Homo sapiens: one gene and its partners. The protein of the gene in region 1 interacts with the protein of each later gene in a pairwise test. Each region holds a gene or a part of one and is shown on either strand. Other genes may lie near its edges.

Evidence for each region. The genes of interacting proteins can lie anywhere in the genome.
Region 2: the proteins of HNRNPF (region 1) and TFG interact in binary tests that used the Homo sapiens proteins (3 or more experiments, as listed by UniProt).
Region 3: the proteins of HNRNPF (region 1) and UNKL interact in binary tests that used the Homo sapiens proteins (3 or more experiments, as listed by UniProt).

What each region holds. Positions count from the first base shown.
Region 1 is NC_000010.11:43,406,168-43,413,739, forward strand, and holds the start of HNRNPF (heterogeneous nuclear ribonucleoprotein F), read right to left. Parts: upstream 3,020-7,572; 5' UTR 2,964-3,019; exon of another isoform or gene 2,923-2,963; intron 2,691-2,922; exon of another isoform or gene 2,560-2,690; intron 1,612-2,559; exon of another isoform or gene 1,550-1,611; intron 1-1,549.
Region 2 is NC_000003.12:100,740,494-100,747,515, forward strand, and holds part of TFG (protein TFG), read left to right. Parts: intron 1-4,339; coding exon 4,340-4,438; intron 4,439-7,022. UniProt on the Homo sapiens protein: Plays a role in the normal dynamic function of the endoplasmic reticulum (ER) and its associated microtubules. Required for secretory cargo traffic from the endoplasmic reticulum to the Golgi apparatus.
Region 3 is NC_000016.10:1,397,683-1,404,704, forward strand, and holds part of UNKL (putative E3 ubiquitin-protein ligase UNKL), read right to left. Parts: intron 5,663-7,022; coding exon 5,486-5,662; intron 4,020-5,485; coding exon 3,886-4,019; intron 1,828-3,885; coding exon 1,692-1,827; intron 1,260-1,691; coding exon of another isoform or gene 1,160-1,259; exon of another isoform or gene 619-1,159; intron 458-618; coding exon of another isoform or gene 398-457; intron 1-397. UniProt on the Homo sapiens protein: May participate in a protein complex showing an E3 ligase activity regulated by RAC1. Ubiquitination is directed towards itself and possibly other substrates, such as SMARCD2/BAF60b. Intrinsic E3 ligase activity has not been proven.

The sequences.
Region 1 (7,572 bases):
AGTGGGGGAGAGGGAATTAGAGAAGTCACCTCCAAGGAAAGGGCCTGTCACATTTCTGCAGCCCCTGCAGGCATCTACCCCCACCGGGCTCTCATTTGCCTCCAGGCTTTCCAAGGTTCTGGCCACGTGGGAGAAGTAACTTTCTATTTACTCAGTCTTTTCCCTTAAATAAATTCCATTTTTTACCTGAATAAAGCTTTATAACGCTACCCTTAACAGAAAACTTGGCAGTTTACAAAAAAGTGGCCGGGCACGATGGCTCACGCCTGTAATCCCAGCACTTTGGGAGGCAGAGGCGTGAGAATCGCTTGAGCACAAAAGTTTGAAAATCAATCTGGGCAACATAAGGAGACCCCATCTCTACAAAAAATACAAAAATTTGCCGGGCGTGCTGGAGAGTGCCCGTGGTCCCAGATACTCGGCGGCTGAGGTGGGAGGATCCGTTGAGCACAGGAGGATCTCGGCAGCGAGCCGAGATCACACCATTGCACTCCAGCCTGGGCAACAAAGTGAGACCCTGTCTCAAAAAATAATACATATTTTTTTATAGAGACGGGGTAGGTCTCTGGGGCCCAAGCGATCCTCCCACACCTCGGCCTCCCTAAATGCTGGGATTACAGGCGTGAGCCACCTCGCCCGGCCGATAATGACTCTAATCTACAGAATGCACACCGGAATGTAATACCTACAAGGGAAAAGATCTTCTTGCTTAGGAATAAAGCAATCTCTCTCTTAATATTCATTAAAGTAGTAATGTCTTATTTTATAGTTTATAAATTCTGTGAGAGCAACGAGTCACTTTGCAGGAATAGCACTTAAGGTATCTTTCACCTACCTGGAGAACCCAAGAAATTTTCATCTTACTAGGAATTCAGAGACAACCACGTATTTAACTTTTAAAAATATAACTAAGTAGAAAGAATTATATGCGTGTATTTTTGGAAGAATTAAGATGACTTTTGGGACGGAACGACTGAAAACTACGCTTTCAGAACTCCCTGCCGCCTGAGGCTGTGGCCCTGACCCCGGCGCAGGGCCCGCCCCGCGCGGTTCCGGGAAGCCGCCGCCGCCGCCCGTTGCCCTTCGCGCGCAGCCGCCAGCGCGCGCCTCGCGTCCCGCCACGCAGATGGCCGGCCCGAGCCCCCAGCGCCCGCGAGCAGTTTCGAGAACTAAAGAGGCGCGTCAGCTCGTCCCCGGGCCGCCCGCGGGCAATGGCCGAGCTCGGCTCTCCTTCCACCCTCCGCCGGGACACACGCGGAGCCGAGCGGGGGTCCCAGGCGCCTAGGGGGAGGGGTTCCCGCGCCCGGGGCGGCCTTGGGGGGAGGGCGAGTCGGGTGCCTTGCTCCTCAAAACCCTGGTCCACGACTCTGCGGTTGGGGGAGCCGGGCAGCCGGCGCAGCAGGAGCCGGGCCCCGTCCACAAGTTTCCTACGAGCAGGGCGGAATCGACGAAAATACTTAATACAAACAAACAAAAGGAAAAAAAAAAGGACGACTAAGCTGAAGAGCGCGCACGAGTCAGATTTTCACCCCAAATACAAACACGATACCTCTAGGAGCAGGAGACCAATACAGGGACCGCGCTCCGAGGACACGCGGCGCAGCCGAGGAGGAAAAAGGGCCCGGGGCCGAGAGCTAAGGCTACGGGAACCGGGCGTGGGAGGAGGGCGGAGCCAACTCCCCACAAGGAAGTCTTGTGCAACTCTCAGGCGCCTGCAGCCACGTGAGCGCGCGGCTTTCATTTTACTCAGGTATTATTACTATTATTACTTCTTTTGAGACAAGGTCTCATTTCCGTCGCCCGGCTGGAATGCAGTGGCACAATCACTGTCACTGCAGCCTCGACCTCAGAGCAAGCGACCCTCCCGCCTCAGCCTCCCGAGTAGCTGGGACAACAGGCGCGCGCCACCACACGTGGCTAATTTTTTTTTCTTTACTTTTCAGTAGAGACAGTCTATGTTGCCCAGGCTTGTCGGGAACTCCTGGGCTCAAGAGATCCTCCCGGCTGGGCCTCCCACTGCGCCAGGCCTGTTCTCACTTTCAGAGCCCTCCGGCAGTCGCCAGCTCCCCGCCAGGGGGCCGGACTAACGCACCCGGCCGTCCGTGCCTTCCCCGCGCTTTCCTGACTCCAAAATCTCAGCCCGCGGTGCTCACCGCGTGGGACCACTGTCTGGGCGTGCGGCTCTCGACCTCCGACGCTGCGTCTCCCGATCCCAGTGGGTCCAGTTCTTGCCGGTCCCACGTACGGGCCCCTCGACCTCGAATCCCGTCACCCAAATCTCAGCGCCACGGCCCCTCATTATGTGCAGTCCTCGCTCGGTCCCAGGTTTGCGGCGCTTAAACTCAGATCGCTCTTCCCTGATCCCAAATCCCAGCCCCAGCCCAACGATCCCCACCCCAATAGGCCCAGTCCCCAGGTAGTCCGGGTACGGGGCCCTGGACTTCGGATAGTCTCCCTAATCTCAAATCCCACCCCCCGTCCCCACCCCCAGGGGGACCCGGTCCCCGCTAGGTCCCGGGTGTGCGGCCTTCGACCTCGGAGACTTCGGCCGCCCCTCACCTCGGCCTCCGAGTCTCTACACTCCCGCTCTCATATCAGGCACCCCGGTGGTCCCTTGGAGCACCTAGAGGAGGGTGGGACGCGGGGAACTTGGCAGTTGTAGCAGAGGCAGTTGAGGCTTGTTGACCATCACCATGGAAACCCCCGCCTGCGAGCACGGGGCGGAGCCTACGAGGGGCGGGGTCAGGCGCGCTGCCGGCCCCAATCCTCAGCGCCTGCCCGTCGAGCGCACGCGGCTTTGCCGGAAGCCCTCCTGCTCCCGGCGAGCCAGGCCCCGACTAGGCCCTACTGCCCGGCTCAGCCCTTTGCCCTGGACACCAGGAAACAGAAGCCCAAGGAGCCCGCGTCCCCACCCCCTGCTACCTGCCGGCGTGACAGCGATTCGGTGGCCCCCCGAACCCCACCTTGAGGAAGACGCGGCGCAGTCCTGCTTCCACGACGGAGCCGGAAGGACGCAAGGACCGCGGCAGGGCGGAGTTTCTGCGTCCGGCGTCCGGGGGCGGGGCCGCGACGGCGCATTGTGACGCGCCAGAGCTGAGCCGCCGGTTGGCCGGCTGGGCGCGGAGCAGAGCCGACACGGCTGGCGGGGGAGGCGGTGGAGGCGGACAAGCGAGGACGTTTCTGGAGAGGAGAAGGGAGGGGAGGGGAGGGGATAGGGGGAGGGGGAGGAGGAGGAGGGAGTGGAGCGGCGGGAAAGATCCCTCTGACTGCCCCTGAGGCCCTGGAGGAAGGACACTGGTGAGCCCCGCAGGACACTGAAATGTGCGCCGAAAGGACGCCTGATGGAAGACTAGGATGGGAAAAGGAAATGAGAGCCGATGGCAGGGCGTGGTGGCGCAAGCCTGTGGTCCCAGTAATTTGGGAGGCTAAGGCGGGAGAATCGCTTGAGCCCGGGAGGTCGAGGCTGCAGTGATCCGTGACTGCTCCATTGCGTCCAGCCTGGGCGACAGAGCGAGGCGCTGTCTCAAAAAATAAAATAAGGAAAGTAGTACACTGAAGGCCGGGCGCGGTGGCTCACGCCTGTAATCCCACCACTTTGGGAGGCCGAGGCGGACGGATCAGGCGGTCGGGAAATCGAGACCATCCTGGCCAACATAGTGAAACCCCTACTAAAATACAAAAAAATTAGCCAGGCGTGGTGGCGCGCGCTTGTAGTCCCAGCCACTCGGGTGGCTGAGGCAGGGGAATCGCTTGAACCCGGGAGGCGGAGCTTGCGTGAGCCGAGATCGCGCCACTGCACTCCAGCCTAGCGACAGAGCGAGACTACGTCTCAAAGAAAAAAAAAAAAAAAAGGTACACTGAGTACTCCGGAGACCGCCTAAAGGGGTCTCAGAGCAGGGCGTTAGGAGGGATTTGTCAGGTTGAAGTTGCTCAGGTGATAAATTCCGTGGTGTGAGAAGCCCCCAAACCTCAGAATGTAACTCAGACCCAGGTCGAGGGCAAGATTTTCAGTCACAGAGCACCTGAACACACAGATTTGGTGGCTAATGGCTAAGCCAGGGACAGATTTTCTTTCTTTTCTTTTTTTTTTTGATGTATTGTAGGGCTAATAATTGTAACCATTTTATTTTGGTGGATCTTCTTCATGAAGAGATGATGTCAAGGCACTCATCACAGGTTAAGCTGAACATTGTTACTATTGTTATTATTTCCAGACTGAGTATCGCCCTGTCATTCAGGCGGGAGTGCAGTGGTACAATCACGGCTCACTGCAGCCTCGACCTCCTGGGCTCAAGCGATCCTCCTGCCTCAACCTCCTGAGTAGCACCACCACTCTCGGCTAAATTTTGTATTTTTTGTAGAGGCGAGGTTTCGCTGTGTTGCCCGGGCTGGTCGGGAACTCCTGGACTCAAGCCATCCGCCCACCTACGCCTCCCAGAGTGTTGGGATTACTGGATTGAGCCACGCATCTGGCTGAACGTTATTTTTTAAATCACCAGAGAAAGTAAAGGAGTGCTCAAAATAGTGTCAGATGATGAGTGGGATGATTGTGATGAAGGAAGGAGTTTGTTAAAAGAAAAAGCTAGTTCCAAGAAAGAGAATGGAAAGAGTAAAGCAGGAGCTGTCAGAATAGGTAAAAATGTCCAAAGAGAAAACTGCATAATTTGAGGCAAAATTACAGAAAATAGTTCCTGCAAAAATCAGATAGGTATTCAGCATCATAGGAAAGGGGCGAAAATCAGATAGGTAGGTATTCTTAAGAAGTTGTGGCCGGCCGGGCGCGGTGGCTCGCGCCTGTAATCCCAAGACTTTGGGAGGCCGAGGTGGGTGGATCACCTGAGGTTAGGCGTTTGAGACCAGCCTGGGCAACATGGCGAAACCCTGTCTCTACTAAAAATACAAAAAAAAATTAGCCGGGCGTGTTGGCGCGTACCTGTAGTCCCATCTACCCTGGAGGCTGAGGCAGGAGAATCGCTTGAATCCAGGAGGTGATGGTTGCAGTGAGCCGAGATTGCACCATTGCCCTCCAGCCTGGGTAACAAGAGCGAAACTCTGTCTCAAAAAAAAAAAAAAAGTCATACAGTGACTGCATCACAGCTCATGCTGTAGAAAGATGTTTCTGGAGAGAAAAATTCAAGTAGCCAATTTAAATCGAATATTAGGAAAATTAAACCAAAAGGGCTCACGCCTGTAATCCTAGCACTTTGGGAAGCCGAGTCAGGCGGATTACCTGAGGTCAGGAGTTCAAGACCATCCTGGCCAACATGGTGAAACCCTGTCTCTACTAAAAATACAAAAATTAGCCGGGCGTGGTGGCACATGCCTGTAATCTCAGCTACTCAGGAGGGTGAGGCAGGAGAATTGCTTGAGCCCAGGAGATGGAGGTTGCAGTGAGCCAAGATTTTGCCACTGCACTCTAGCCTGGCCGACAGAGCAAGACTCTGTCTCAAAAAAAAAAAAAGAAAGAAAATTAAACCAAAAGACTAGTAATGCTTCAGAAATTAGGGACTGTTAAACCAGCTGCAAGAAGATATATTCATGCAATCTTTGTATTAAGAGTCTCTCTGGCTGGGTGCGGTGACTCAGACCTGTAATCCCAGCACTTTGGGAGGCCAAGGCCAGTGGATTGCTTGAGCCCTGGAGTTCAAGACCAGCCTGGGGAACATAGTGAGACCCAGTCTGTATTTTAAAAGTTAAAAAAAAAAAAAAGCCTCTAAGCTAAGTGGACCTTTGATCCCCTCACTCAAATTTGACAGTTCTCCATTATTCATAAATGAGGTAATAGTTGTTGGAGACGGTCTTCTCTGAATGCAAGACTAGTACTTTGGCCTGATTATAGAACTTCCTGCCGTCCTAAGGAGTCATCCCAGGTGTCCACTATATCTTTTTCAGCATTGAGTACCAGCACAGTCACATGTAGGCTTTATCCCACAGTGAAGACTTGGCATCACTCAGAATGATGCCACAGGTCCTAGGCCTTTTCCACACTGGGCTCACTTCACCAACTCGCAAATGCTCATCCACACCTGGTCCACCTGGACTACCTCCTTATCTGTAGCCCTTTCACCTCTGTGTCCATAGAAATGTCTTACCTAAGCTCTGAAATCTAAACATTCAGAGAGCACCTTGATGCTTGAGAGCATCTACACAGAGATGAACCTTTAAGATCTATGGTTTAAAACAATTGAATTCCAAGATGTTGCCCCTTACAGACTGACCTGCCTGATTATTTCCTGTTGTTTATGTACATTGATTATTATCAAAAACTTAATACTTTATTTTTTTTGAGACGGAGTCTCGCTCTGTCGCCCAGGCTGGAGTGCAGTGGTGCGATCTCAGCTCACTGCAAGCTTCTCCTCCCGGGTTCACGCCATGCTCCTGCCTCAGCCTCCCGAGTAGCTGGGACTACAGGCGCCCACCACGGCGCCTGGCAAATTTTTTTTTATTTTTAGCAGAGACAGGTTTTCACCGTGTTAGCCAGGATGGTGTCAATCTCCTGACCTCGTGATCCGCCCGCCTCGGCCTCCCAAAGTGCTGGGATTACAGGCGTGAGCCACCGCGCCCAGCCAAAAACTTAATAGTTTTTAATAAATATTGTCAGGTTTTTTTTTTTTTTTTTTTTTGAGACGGAGTTTTGCTCTTGTCACCCAGGCTGGAATGCAATGGCACGATCTTGGCTCACCGCACCCTCCACCTCCCAGGTTCAAGCGATTCTCCTGCCTCAGCCTCCCGAGTAGCTGGGATTAGAGGTGCCCACCACCAGGCCCGGCTAATTTTTGTATTTTTAGTAGACACGGGGTTTCGCCTTGTTGGCCAGGCTAGCCTTGAACTCCTGACCTCATGATCCACCCGCCTCCGCCTCTCAAAGTGCTGGGATTACAGGCGTGAGCCACCGCGCCTGGCCAATATTGTCAGTTTTAAAAAATAAGTTCCCCTCTAGACACTACTTATCCATACAATTGGTTACAGGTTTGGAGCGTTACAGAGGTTTTTAAATCTTCTACTCAGTAGTTCTTGAAAAATCACCTTACCTATTAAGCTGAGATTCCCCCTTCCCGCAAGACGGTGCCATTAAGTAGGCAGGGATCACCAAGGTTCAGAGATGTCTCTTGCTCAAAAATCATAGTATCTGTTAAATAGCAATAACCGTAGCTAACACATACTGCATTCTCACTATGCTTTGTGCTATTCTACTTAATCCCACTGAAACCTGGTAACAACCCTGCAGTAGATACTACCACCATTTGGCGGAAAGAAACTGAGTCACCCAGCTTCTAGATGGCTGAGCTGGAAGTTGTATGGAGGCTGGAGGCCCCATCTGATTCCAGGGTCCGTTCTCAACTACTGCAATCTAGATCCTAGCGAGAAACGGGCTTTTCAGGCTGTCTCCTCCCTTTCCCATCTGAGAGGAGAATGAAGGAAGTGAGAAAGCCAACTGACCTGTCTAGTCAGTATAGGCCCTGTCTAAATGTCACTTTTCTCCTTGAAGCGAGGTGCTCTAGGAGGCAGAGATAACCCAGGTGGGAAGAGGCACATTCGGCAGTGACAGCCTTGTCTGGTTAATTTTCATGA
Region 2 (7,022 bases), on another chromosome or scaffold:
TGTCATTTCTGCAATATTTTCTTGGTATACAGGTCAGCCCTATTCAGTATGTGAGGGACTAACAGGGAGCAGATACTCATGTGCTTGTTGCTTATTTGGTCATTTTTGTATTGTGGAGTTAAATCTTTCTAATTTCTAAGAATATAAACGATACCAACCCATTGTCATAAATGCTATACATGTGCAGAAGCCGTTGAGGGTCATGATAGAGGTTGGCTACTCTGTGTAATAAATAATTCCCAGAAGTCTTACCATTACTCTTTGCTTCATCCTGTTCTCTTTTCCCCTTAATTTTTTTTATTACTTTTTACTTTATTCTGTCATTGATTCTTTTTGAAAATATACATAAAACATAGCTTATATATAGTCATGCACTGTATAACATTTCAGTCAACAGTGGACTGCATATATGATGGTGGTCTCATAAGATTATAATGGAGGTGAAAAATTTCTATTGCCTAGTGATGTGTAGCCATCATAATGTAGCACAAGGCATTACTTACGTGTTTGTGGTGATTCTGGTGTAAACAGACTTACTGCCAGTCATATAAAAGTGTAGCTCACATAATTATGGGTAGTACCTAATACTTGATAATGATGATAGGTGACTCTCTTACTCATTTGTGAATTTACTATACTATATTTTTAAATCATTAGAGTGTACTCCTACTTATTTAAAAAAAAACAAAGCTGTAGAACCAGGCTCAGATAGGTCCTTCAGAAGGTATTCCGGAAGAAGGCATTGTTATCATAGGAGATGAGAGCTCCATGGATGTTCTTGACCCTGAAGACCTTCCAGTGGGACAGGATATGGAGGTGGAAAATAGTGATATCAATGATCCTGATGCTGTATAGGCCTAGGCTAATGTGTATGTTTGTGTCATAATTTTTTTCTAAATGTTTAAAAAAGTAAAAATTTAAAATTAAAAGAATAGAAAAATGCTTATAGAATAAGGATATAAAGAATAAATATTTTTGTATAGTAGCACAATGTACTTTAAGCTAAAGTATTAAAAAAGTTAAAAAATCAAGTTTATAAAGTAAAAACATTACAGTAAGCTAAGGTTAATTTATTGAAGAAATGGAATTTTAAAAAATAAATGTAGTATAGCCTAAGTGTATAGCGTTTGTAAACCTTTAGTAGTGCACAGTAATGTCCTTGGCCTTCACATTCACTCAACACAAGTACCTCACTTGGAGCAGCTTTTAATCCTACAAGCTCCAGTCATGGTAAGTGCCCTAGGCAGGCATACCATTTTTTATCTTTTTTGCCATATTTTCACTGTACCTTTTTTATGTTTTGATATGTTTAGATACACAAATAATTACCATGTGTTAGAATTGCCTAAGTATTCAGTACAGGAACATGCTCTACAGGTTTGTAGACTGCTATGTACCATATAGCCTAGCTATGTAGTAGGCTATATACATCTAGGTTTGTGTAAGTATACTATATGATTATACAGTGACACAATTTTCAGAACCTACTCTTGTCATTAAGCAATGCATGACCATATTTTTTATTACTCAAAACATTGCTTACTATAAACAATGTCTGCATTTTGCTCTCTTCATATATCCTATAGATCTCTCAAGTATGTGAAGAAGTTCATCCTTTTTCTTTTTTTAAACAATTAAACAGACTTCTTAATTAATTTTCAGAATACTGTGACAGTCCCATTTGGACTTGAATGAGGTGGGTTTAAAGTAAGTACCGTAAATCCTCACTTAACATTGTTGATAGGTTCTTGGAAATTGTAACTTTAAGTGAGATGACGTATGAGGAAATCAGTTCTACCATAGGCTAATTGATATGAGTAAGTTGAGTTCCTACAGCATATCTCTGATCACAAAAATACCCCCAGACTTCTAGATAAAGACTAAAAACAAATGTGAGTTATAGATACATTTAAGAAAGATTAATAAAAACAAATAAGATAATGATTTATGCAGTTATTCCAATTCAGGGTTGTGGGTGGCTGAAATCTATCCCATCAGCTCAGTAGCAAAGTGGGGACCAACCCTGACAGGTTGCTATTCCATTGCAGGGTGCATTGCAACCACACACACACCCATAGTCGTTCAGACTGAGATCATTTAGACATGCTAAGTAACCTAACATACACATCTTTGGGATGTGGGAGGAAATTGAAGTGCCCAGAGAAAACCCACACAGACTTGGGGAGAATGTGCAGACTCTACACAGAACAGTAACCCCAACTGGGAATAATTTTTTTTTCCTTCTCAGTGTTTTAACGAAACAATGTCGAACAAAAGATGTTATTTGAGGATCTGCTGTGTAAAAGGAATCTTGTGTAGAGATATAATAAACCTCTGAAATTTTTAACTCTAGGGATGTTTTTCAAAATCAATTTATAGCAGTTTATGAAAACATGCAAAAAAAAAAAGCTTTATGAAGAGTTGTACCCTATAAATTTTTATTGAGGGGAATAACTGTGGTTTTGACCAGGAGTTCCTTACTCATTGATGACCACAGTCTACTACTACGTGGAACCTTAATCTCAGCCTTTTTTGATGATGCCCAAGTTAATATTTATATTGTTTTGTTCATGGGATAATATATGCAAAATGACTTTATAAACTAAAGCTTTGGAGTTATGCCTGAGTTCCAGTGATGGTTCTTAGCTCTTCATGGTTCTGTTCTTAGCTATTGACTGCAGGTAAGTTGCTTAATTTTTCTGTATCTGAGATAAGGAATACTAATATGGTTGAATTTTTTTAAATGTGTTTATTGCCTGTTTGCTTATTTTTTTATTGTGGAGTTAAGCCTTCTAATTTTCAAGAATTAAGAGTTCATTGTTATGTGCTATACGTATTTATTCCCCTTGATTATATTTCTGTACCTACTTACCTTTTTATTTTAGATTCTGGTCACTTCTATTCCGAAAGTTAGTTATGAAGTACAATCCAGGATTAAGGTGGCATCTAAATTTGGTTAATTTCTGTGCTACCTTTTATGCTATTAGTCTAAATCATTAAGAAAGCATTTAAGAAACTTTTGTAAGCGTTTCTTTTTTTTTCTTGTCATATTTGGGAATAGGATAAATAGCTTAAAATAGTTGAGCTGATTTTTATTTGTATTCTTTTTTTATTATAAAGAAACATTTGCTAGGAAATAAGCTGGATATAAACATAGTTGTATCTCCTTTAGTGCTACCCAGCACTAAAAACTTAGACACGTATAGGGCTGAGCAGCTGGTATAATAGAGTGGGCTCCGTCTCATTTTCTAAGCCTGTGAGTCCTAGCTGCCTACTGCAGCTCGATTTGAGTGGGAGTTGATATAATGTCTTTTTTTTTTTCTCACTTCAGCAGTAAGTATCTGGTTTGCTCATAGTCTTTTGATTAATAGGTAGTTTGAATATTTTTCAAAGAATCAGCCAACATGTGATTATTTTAAAGATTTAAATACCAGATAGATATTAAAATGCAAGGTTATTGCTACTAGATATTACATCTAGCTAAATCAACCATTGTGAAATAATTGAGAAGTAGAGATAATAAAGACATAAACCAATAAATCTTTGCTTGAAAATCACAGGTATGGGAACAGATTGTGAGGACAGAAAAATAAAAAGTAAAAAGAAAAATCATAGGTAATAAGTGTCTAAAGGGTTTCTTCATAGGAACAGTGGTTGTTGACCCCAAATAGGACAAATAGGACTCCCATGTTCAAGAACACATCACCGTTGTTAAAAAGGTCTGCCATTATTAAATAGTGCAATGAAGAACCATTTAGACTTTATTAGAGTCCACGTTATTGGCAAAAGATGTTGGATATTCATAGAAAATCAAACTTGACAAATTCCAAAAGTGTCTTTCAGCTCTGGAACAAAAGATGTCATATAGTTCCTTGCTACCAAAGAGTTTGTTCATATGGTAATAGAGGCCCATACCTTTAGAGGGCAAATACAGTGCTTTAGGAAGGACTTAGATGATATAAATGGTATTTGTCCCTTTTCTCATTTTTATTTACTGATTTTCAACTCACTTGGCTTTTAATGAACATTAGCGTTACTTATCTGTTGGCAGCTGGGTTGGAAAACATTTGTTTTTCTAGACTTTATGAAATGGTAGCCACTGGTGTTGCACTTAATGTTTATTGCCAGTTAGTTCTCTGCAGTTAATCCACAGCAGAGGAATCACACTTCTAAAATGGTTCATTCTCTTCTTCATAGACATTTAAAGTTGAACAAATACTTTCTTGTATATTGTTACTCTGTTTGGATGGAGAGGGAATGTATATGTATCTTAAAAATATTTCTCTTTGCCACATTAAACATGCCTTTTTTCCTTGTGTGTGTGTGTGTGTGTTTTCAGGTCAGATGTACCAACAGTACCAGCAACAGGCCGGCTATGGTGCACAGCAGCCGCAGGCTCCACCTCAGCAGCCTCAACAGTATGGTATTCAGTATTCAGGTGAGCAGGTGTTGAAAGGGAGTTGGCTCATGGTTTTTTGTTTCTATACTCATTAAACTTTAAGTTCTTAATTCCTTGATTTGTAGTACATTGATATAATAGGTATTAAGTTTTTATTAGGGGAAACAACATTTGTTTTATTTATTTTTAAATATTTTACATTAATATTGTAAATCAACATTTCAGTTTTCTGGTGGGGAGATAAAACTTACAGTAGATGATTCTGCAGTAACTTGTAGTATAAAAAGTTTTTAATACAAAGCTGTCTTACTAACATTATCAGTTTATCTCTTAGGCGACTTAGTGCAAGTTTTCCCCCTTCCCTCCACCTCTCCATTTATATGTAACACGTAATTCCAGTGTACTCTTAGTACCTGTAGAAATATGAACAGTTTACTATACATGGAAAGGTGATGTTATTTAAATAAGAGCTCAATTAAGCTACTTAGATTTTAAAATCTCTTGCAAGTATGTAGGAATACCAGAAATAGGCCATAAAAATAAAATCGTATAAAATGTAATTCAGGCAACTAAGAACATTGTTTAGTTGTTTTAAATAAGCATCCTGAGTATTTTGTTTCTATTTTACCATCTGTCCACTGAAGATTATATGTATTTAAGTATGATAAATATTATTAATGTAACTTTGGCTATAATTCCAGTATTTTTTACAGTTATGTCAGAGAGTTTGTGTCCAACTCTTGTTTTACAGCCAAAGATTGAAGTATCAGAATTTCAACTGTAATTAGAAATAATTTATGCAGGTTGAATCTAGTCTAAATTCTATTTTATAGAGTTTTGTGGTATCAGCTAGAGCAGGAGTCAGTAAAGTATAGCCCACAGGCCAAATCTGGACTATTGCCTGTTTTTTTGAATAAAGTTTTATTGGAACACACTTCTACTTTTATATTCTCTACTGCTACTTGGGCACTAGAATGGCAGAGTTGAGTAGTTGCAACAGAAGACCATGTGGCCCACAAAGCCTAAACTATTTACTATCTGGCTCTTTACAGAAAAGTTTGCTGACTCCTGACCTAGACCATAACATTCTGTCATTAATTAAAATTTGAAATATTTTGACACAATTTTATTTAGATTGTATTTGCTGTAGAGTGACTTAACTTGTAGCTACTTGTTTTTAATTGTATAAAATACATAGAACTTAAGTTTGGATTATATCAGGAGGAAGGTTATTTTTAGGATGCAGTTCTTTTAAAAAAATCAGTGTTACAAACTATGTTATTTATAGAAAGAATAGCAGAGCTGAAGAGATTTAGTCATCATTTAATCTCGGGATTTCGGTCCTCACTATGCTTTAGAATCACCTGGGGGAGGCTATGTGTGGGGCCCCATTCCCAGAGATTTTGAATTTCATTTGATTGGGTGTGGGACTCAGGCGTTTGCATTTTATAAATGAGGCAACTAGTTTTGAAAGAGATTGTGACTTGTCAAAGCACATACAGCCATTCAGTGGAGGGAGCTGGATCAGTTCAGTATTTCCCTGTATCATTCTGCATTCTACAACCTAGACTGGAGTTGGCAGACTTACTCCATAAAAGGCTAGATGTCCTATGTATTAAAAAAAAAACTCACATAATTTCCATATTTCCATTTTTTTGCTATTTCTGATGTCCTTCACCTAAAGTTATTTATTATTTTGGAGGGACGGAAGGGAGACTATATATATACACACACACACATGATAGAAGCATTGCCACATTATGTTCAAGAGACTGGTGGGCTGCTAATGAAATCTTCAGCCTGTAGGGTTATTCCCTCCCCTAAGCAATAATTAAGGATCAGATTACTTCCAGGCCCAGTTAAAAAAAAACAATTCAGATTTCAGGTGCCAGGATGAAAAGGCACTTTTCTTTTTTCTCGCAGTGTTAAAATGAATAGGCATTTTCAGTATAAAGCTGAATCCATCTATTTCTTCAAAACCTTATAGTGAAAATTTAAGTTTTATGTAGAGGATAGGAGAACTTGTATGACATTCAGAATTTTTTATGAGTTGGTTTCAGGTCAGTATTTAGATGCTACCATGAGTTAATGCGTTAAAGATACTTGATTTACTTATTAAGAACTAAGCTTGCTCTTAATAAATTTAGTCAGGGTCTTCACTCTGAGTAAAATTTAGTCTTTTCAAATTATTATCTTTGTATTTCTGATCCTACTAGTCTATTAACTTGAATTTGATTGAGAGATATGGAAATAGTCAACTAAATACTCTGCTTGGAGACTAAGAGGTGGTGGTGGTAACATTGGACCATCTTTGACACTGTTGGTTTGCCAGTTTCCCTCTGACCTTTTCCAGTTTTGTTCATGGACTATGTCATAAAGGTTTCTTTCATGAGTAAATTTTGAACCCAGGTTCAAGGTGAGTTCAGAATATACTCAAATTCATTCAATCCTTTTTTTTTTTAATGCAGGGTTGTACATATTTTAATAATTTTCTTATGTATCTGGTATTTAATGCTGACAGGATTCCAGTCAATGGAGAGGTTTCATTGCAAGTAGCTGCAGGTGTGTTTCATGGTAGAGATAAAAGTTTTCAGTGAAGCAGACTTTCGTTGTAAAAAAAATT
Region 3 (7,022 bases), on another chromosome or scaffold:
GCTCCCCCACCCCGACCCCCGTGCTTCACGCTGGGGCAGGGCATGGACCTGGGGATGAGGAGGTGTCAGGGGGACACAGAGGACTTGGCTCCCCCACCCCGACCCCCGTGCTTCACGCTGGGGCAGGGCGTGGACCTGGGGATGAGGAGGTGTCAGGGGGACACAGGAAAACATGGTTCCTCGTGTGCCCAGGGGTGTCTGCCTCCCACCAGGAGGGGCCTCGGGCATGGGGCCCTGGAGTGACAGGCAACGCAGCTCTGCGCTCACGGACACGCAGGCCCGGCCAGTGCCAGGATGGGGTCAGGAGCCCCGGGGCTGTTCTTCACAGAATTTAACTTGAGTCTCAGTCAGAGCCACCCTCACGGACGTGGAGAACGCAGGGGAGAAGCAGCCGAACCTCCTGGGGACAGTGAGGCCGGGCGCCCAGACAGCACGGGGCTGTCTCCTCGCCAACTTTCTATAAAATGGAAGCGAGAGTTTTGATCCCACAATTTAAAACTCCGCACCAATTTCAAATTACCTATGTTCCTACTGCAGTGAGCTGAGACTGCACCACCGCACTCCAGCCTGGGCCACAGAGTGAGACTCTGTCTCATAAAAAAACAAAATCCTCTACTCTTCGTGGAATCTCTAGCTGCTTTATTGTAACTGATTTGTATTTATGGGACACATTAAGTGCCTGTTGAAAAAATAATTTTTATTTTCTTTCCATGACGGGCGATGACAAAATCTCAGACACTAATTTGTGGTTTGTTCTACAGCCGTTCAGGTCCTTTACTCGGAAGCTGCTCAGAGGGAGACTGAACGTGGCATAACAACAAGGAGTGGGGCGTCCTTCCCAAAGGAAGCACAGGTGCTCTCCGGGGCATGCGAGGCAGCACCAGGTCATTCAAAAGAGGCGAGGGTGGCTCTCTGCTCAAAGGAAGAGCTGGACACAGACAGGGCCTCAGGGAGGCCAAGGCCATGGCCCAGGCATCCAGACACCCTGTGGGGTCTGCACCCCCCCACCCCCCTCTCAGGTGCAAACTGCAGACAGGAGGCAAGCCAGGCCAGGCACAACCAGAAGGCCGGGCTGGAGCAAGGAGGAGAAAGGGGCTTCAGAGGCAAGCAGGCTGCGAGGTGCCAAACCCACAAGCCAGACCCAGGGGACAGCTGGGGCTCAGGCGGTGGAGGAAGGTCCTGTGTGCACCCTGGGCAGGGCGACCCTTGGGTTGTTGGCCCTGGGACTCAGCCTAAGGACCCGGCGTCCCAGCTGCCAGCTGTGAAGACAAGATTGAGCCCAGGTGACGACAGTGCCTGAGCCCCTGGCAGCTTGGGTGAGGAGACAGCATGCAGCCCACAGGCTGGAGAGCGTGGCTGCAACCAGAGGCACGGGTGGGGCACACGGGGGTCCCAGCTGGGCTTGGGGTCCCTCCTGCAGTGCTCCGTCCCCTTGCCTGGCAGAGGGGCCCCGGTAGGGGACTGCATGGGAGACACTGAGCGTAGGTGGGGAGGCCCATCCCCAGGACAGACGCGTGGGCCTCCATGGCACCTCCCACAGCCACTGTGCTTGGAGATGCCCTCCCCTCCCGGGGATGATGGTGCCACAAGGGCAGCCCTCCCATTAGAACCCCGGGGTGGGCAACGCGAGCCACGGGCCGGGAAGGACGCCCACCAGCCGGAGTCCTCTGAGCACGGTCCCGCAGGCTCACCTGTACTGGAACCGCCGGGGGTTGCGCCGCCTGTCCCGGCTATTGTGGTAGTGTGGGCACGCATAGCCCTGGCGGCACAGGCGTGGCGGCTTCGGGCACTGCTCCGTCTTGTAGCTGCCCAGCACGAAGTTGGCATCTGAAAAATGGGCCACACGGTGCCTGAGCAGCGCGACTGGAAGCAATGCTGGGCAGAGGAGACCAAAGGTGGAAGGACCTGGCTGTCCCCCAAATGGAAGGGGCTGCAGGAGGACTTGGGGAGCGCAGACACACGCCACGGCACACGCTGATGTCAAAGGACTCGCGCTCCATGAGGGAAGCCGGGCCAGAAGGCCACGTGGTGTGATTCTGTTTATGTGAAAATGCCCAGAACTAGGGAACCCACAGAGACGGAGTGGAGCCGAGACCACCAGGGCTGGGAGGGAGTCCTGCTGTGGGTGTGCGGCTTCCTTGCTGGGGGATGAAAATGTTCTCCAACTAGAGAGAGGTGATGTGTGCACAGCTTTTGAGAATATGCTAAAATCCAGAGACATGCACACCCCGAAATGCCGCATGGTGAGCCTCATGCGCACCACAGCCTCTGGGTGACAAGCACACATCAGTGTGGGTTCACTGTTGGTAAAGAGCGTACCTCGCAGTGCAGGAGGTGCACGGCAGGGGAGGCTGAGGGGGCAGGGGGTGTTTGGGAAATCTATTTTTCTACTCAGTTTTGCTGTGAACCGGAAACCGCTCTAAAAAATAAAGCCTATTTTTAGAAGTCATTCACTGGGCCGGACGTGGTGGCTCACGCCTGTTATCCCAGCACTTTGGGAGGCCGAGGTGGGTGGATCACAAGGTCAGGAGTTCAAGACTTGCCTGGCCAACACAGTGAAACCCCGTCTCTACTAAAAATAAAAAATTAGCCGGGCATACTGGTGCCTGCCTGTAATCCCAGCTACTCAGGAGGCTGAGGCAGGAGAATTGCTTGAACCTGGCAGGCGGAGGTTGCAGTGAGCTGAGATTGTGCCACTGCACTCCAGCCTGGGTGACAGAGCGAGACTCCATCTCAAAAAAAAAAAAAAAAAAAAAAAAAAAAAAAAAAAAAATCGCTGCCATACGCAATGTCCAGAATACACAAATTCACAGAGATGGGATGCAGGCCAGTGAGTGCAGGGACCAGGGAGGGGATGGGGAGGAACTGCTCATAAGCAGGGGGGTTCCTTCTGCAGGGATGGAATGTTCTGGAACTAGAGAGAGGTGGCAGCTGCACAACACTGCAGACGTGCTAAATGCCACTGGACTGTACACTTAAAAATGGTGCATTTTATGTTGTGTGTATTTTACATTTTTTTTTTTGAAACGGAGTCTCACTCTGTCACCCACACTGGAGTGCAGTGGCGTGATCTTGGCTCACTGCAACCTTCACCCCCCGAGTTCAAGAGATTCTCCAGCCTCAGCCTCCCAAGTAGCTGGGATTACAGGCGCCCACCACCACAACCGGCTAATTTTTTGTATTTTTAGCAGAGACATGGTTTCACCATGTTGGCCAGGCTGGCCTCAAACTCCTGACCTCAAGTGATCTGCCCGCCTCGGCCTCCCAAAGTGCTGAGATTACAGGCGTGAGCCAGTGCTCCCAGCCTTACCACGTTTTTTTTCAAATCAAAATCTCCCCTGCATATAACCTCATCTGTGTGCCAGCCAGGAATGCAGGTCCCCCAGCCCCGAGGGACAGCCCCCTGGTCCATATGTTTCTGGCCAAGCTCAGGGATTTGAAAGCTGCTGTCTAGAGCACCACCCCAGAGAGGCGCAGGGCTGGGGGCTCTGCTGGGCATCCTGGTGGGTGCCTGGTGGGCTGGGGGCTCTGCTGAGCATCCTGGTGGGTGCCTGGTGGGCGCCCCGGCTCTGGGACAGGACGCCTCACGAGTTCCGGTGGGAGTTGTGCTACCTCCTCGGCCACTTGGTCAATGGCTGGCCCCACTGAGATGCCAGTTGCCGCAGAGATTCAGAGCAGGTGCGGGGGAAGGCGCCTGGGCCCAAATCCCACTCGGCACCCACCCCCTGTTGGGGAGGGCTTGGTATTGGACTCCACGAGCCTCGGTTTCCCCATCTGATCACCTTGCACGTAAACTGAAAGGCACAGGGAACCAAGTGGCCCGAGCTGTTCTCGCGCTGTGCCCGCCCCCCCCACCACCGCCCTCAGCTGCGGCCGTGGAGTTACCTTGCCACCGGGGGTCCTCGCTCAGGATCTTCTCAATCATGGCCTGGCTGGCCAAGACCCCAGGCTGCAGATCCGGGACCCCTTCCCCGCCGCCCAGCTGGCCGTTCTGCAAGGCTTCCTGGGCCTGCAGCTCCCTGCAAGCCGAGGACACAGTGGTCACAGCTCTGCATCTGGAGCCTCCAAAGCTGAAACGAGGTCACTGGAGGGCACGCTCCCCTCCCACCACTGCACAGAGAGGCTGCTGCCGAAGGGTTCAGGACGGAGTCTCAGTGTGTGGCGCTCCGCTGTCCTGGCCCGCAGTCCTCATCCAAATCCCAACCACTTCATTTTGTTTGCTTTGTCTTGTTTGAGACAGGGTCTGGCTCTGTCCCCCAGGCTGGAGTGCAGTGACGCAATCACAGCTCATTGCAGTCTCCATCTCCCGGGCTCAAGCGATCCTCCCACCTTGGCCTCCCAGAGCACTGGGATTACATGTATGGGCCACTATGCTCAGCCCCACCCAAGTAAGAGCGGAGTTTTGTGTGGGCAGGATTCGCTTTTCTGCAGCCCCAGACCATGTGCTGAGTTCGTTCTCCTGGAAAGCAGCAGTGCCTCACGGCCTCAACCCCAGTGAGCTGCCCTCCGGACCCAGAAGAGAAACACACAGTGAGAAGAGCTGAAGGACTGTCTGCCCCAGACTGTGTGCTGAGTTCGTTCTCCTGGAAAGCAGCAGTGCCTCACAGCCTCAACCCCAGTGAGCTGCCCTCCGGGCCCAGAAGAGAAACACACAGTGAGAAGAGCTGAAGGACTGTCTCATTAGAAATAACATCCAGAGGCCAGGTGCAGCGGCTCACGTCTGTAATCCCAGAATTTCAGGAGGCCGAGGCGGGCAGATCATGAGGTCAGGAGATGGAGACCATCCTGGCTAACACAGTAAAACCCTGTCTCTACTAAAAATACAACAAAATAACCCAGGCATGGTGGTGTGCGCCTGTAGTCCCAGCTACTCGGGAGGCTGAGGCACGAGAATGGCGTGAACCCAGGAGGTAGACGTTGCAGTGAGCCAAGATCACGCCACTGCACTCCAGCCTGGGTAACAGAGCGAGATTCCATCTCAAAAAACAAAAAAAGAAAAGAAAAGAAAGAAATAACATCCAGAGGCCAGGCGCAGTGGCTCACTGTAATCCCAGCACTTTGGGAAGCCAACGTGGGTGGATCACAAGGTCAGGAAATCGAGACCATCCTGACTAACATGGTGAAACCCCATCTCTACTAAACATACAAAAAAAAAAAAAATTAGCTGGGCGTGGTGGTGGTCACCTGTAGTCCCAGCTACTCGGGCAGCGGAGGCAGGAGAATGGTGTGAACCCAGGAGGCAGGGCTTGCAGTGAGCTGAGATCGCGCCGCTGCACTCCAGCCTGGGTGACAGAACGAGAATCCGTCTCAAAAAAAGCAAAAAAAGGACTAACATCCAGACTCAGAAAGAAATTCTGGAGGAGAGAGATTTGGGCCAGCAGAGCCTGCAGCAGCAGGGAGGCGAGCCACTTGCCGAGTTCCTGCTCATCCAGCAGAGCCCACAGCAGCAGGCAGGCCAAGTGCCCACTCGTGGATGCCCACTCACCTGACGTCACACACGGGCGGCCGCAGGTCCAGGGGGCCGTGCGCGAAGGCACAGTGCAGCCCATTCTTCACGCAGTGGCCACGTGCGTCTGTCTCGTGGATGCAGGTTCCTGTTTTGTAGTAACGCAGGTGGTACTTGCGTTCTGTGTCCCCCGTCGTCCGGTGCAGGTAGGGACACCTGGGGAGCAGAGAGGCACGCAATGCCTGGTTATCATGGACCCAGAGGCAGCCCTAAGCTCCCTGGGTCCACGCCCTGTCAGCACGTGGCAAGCAGTGAATTCCCTTCCCTTCTTCCAGATTCCTGTTCTAATCAGAAGGACGGACACACTGGACGCAGCACCTGTCCCCAAATGTGGAACCGCCCAGGTACACAGACCACCGCAAACCCCCAGTCAACCAGTCAAACACAGTAAGAAACACAGACCATCGCAAACCCCCAGTCAGCCAAACACAGCAGGAAACACAATGCTGAATTTCCACAAAGCTCATCCTTCCTAATGTTCCAAATAAACCTTTAAACCTGTGTGGGAATGAGAGTTCATGCCCTGCACGCAGGCTGCGTCACCTTCCTTACCCGTCGCAGTCACAAAGTGGGGGCCCCTCCTGCCCAGCGTCCTGCTGCTTTCAGGGACCCCAGGAGGGAGGTAGGGGAGGGAACAAGCACAGGGCCCTGGACGCGGCTTGGGGGACACGAGGGGGATGGGCAGAAGAGGCGGCAGATGGCGTGGTGGGGAACACAGGTGAGGTAGCATCACCATCCCATGGGCCACCTGCAGGCCCAGAGCCATGCTCCTGGGGAGTCACAGGCAGCTCCTGAAGCACGATGGGGTGCAGTGGAGAGGGGAAGCAGCTGCCAAGGCTCAAGTCATAGGCAGGCAGCAGCGACGGAGACAAGGAGACGACACAAACCGCTCTGGCATTCCTGGGCGCCTCCAGGTAGGTCACTCCAGAAGGAGGCAAAGGGACGCACAGAGGACCCTGAGTCATCAATGGTGTCGAGCCCTGGCTGGTCACAGAATCACCCTGAGTGGCCCAAGGGCCAAGGCAGAGGATGACATGGGCCGTCACTGCAGGCCCCCAAATGTAAGGACTGAAACCTTCACCTCCAGCTCCAACTGGGGAGCTCCGTGAGGGCCCCGCCCACCTCACTGTGCACAGGGCTGCAGCCTGGGCACTAGGAGCTCCAGCCAGGGATGGCTGGGGACCAAGAGCGATTCAGCAACACCAGGTCTAGCCCCATCCTCTAAGGTCAGGAAACAGAGACACAGAGTTCAGAGAGGCCGACCCAGGCTCCGCTGGGCACCTGTGATGTGCCAGACACTGAAAGCTGAGGGTCGACAGAGGCAGAAGAAGGGGTGCCTGGCTGGCTCTCAGGGTCCCCAGGAGCCAGCCAAGCAAAAGTCAAATTACAACGCTACCTTGGTACCCAGCGATCCTGCTCCTAAGTACACATCCAAAAAACCTGGAGGCAGGGTCTTCAGGAGACACCTGCACACCCATGTTCACAGCAGCGTCATTCGCAAGAGCCAAGAGGCAGA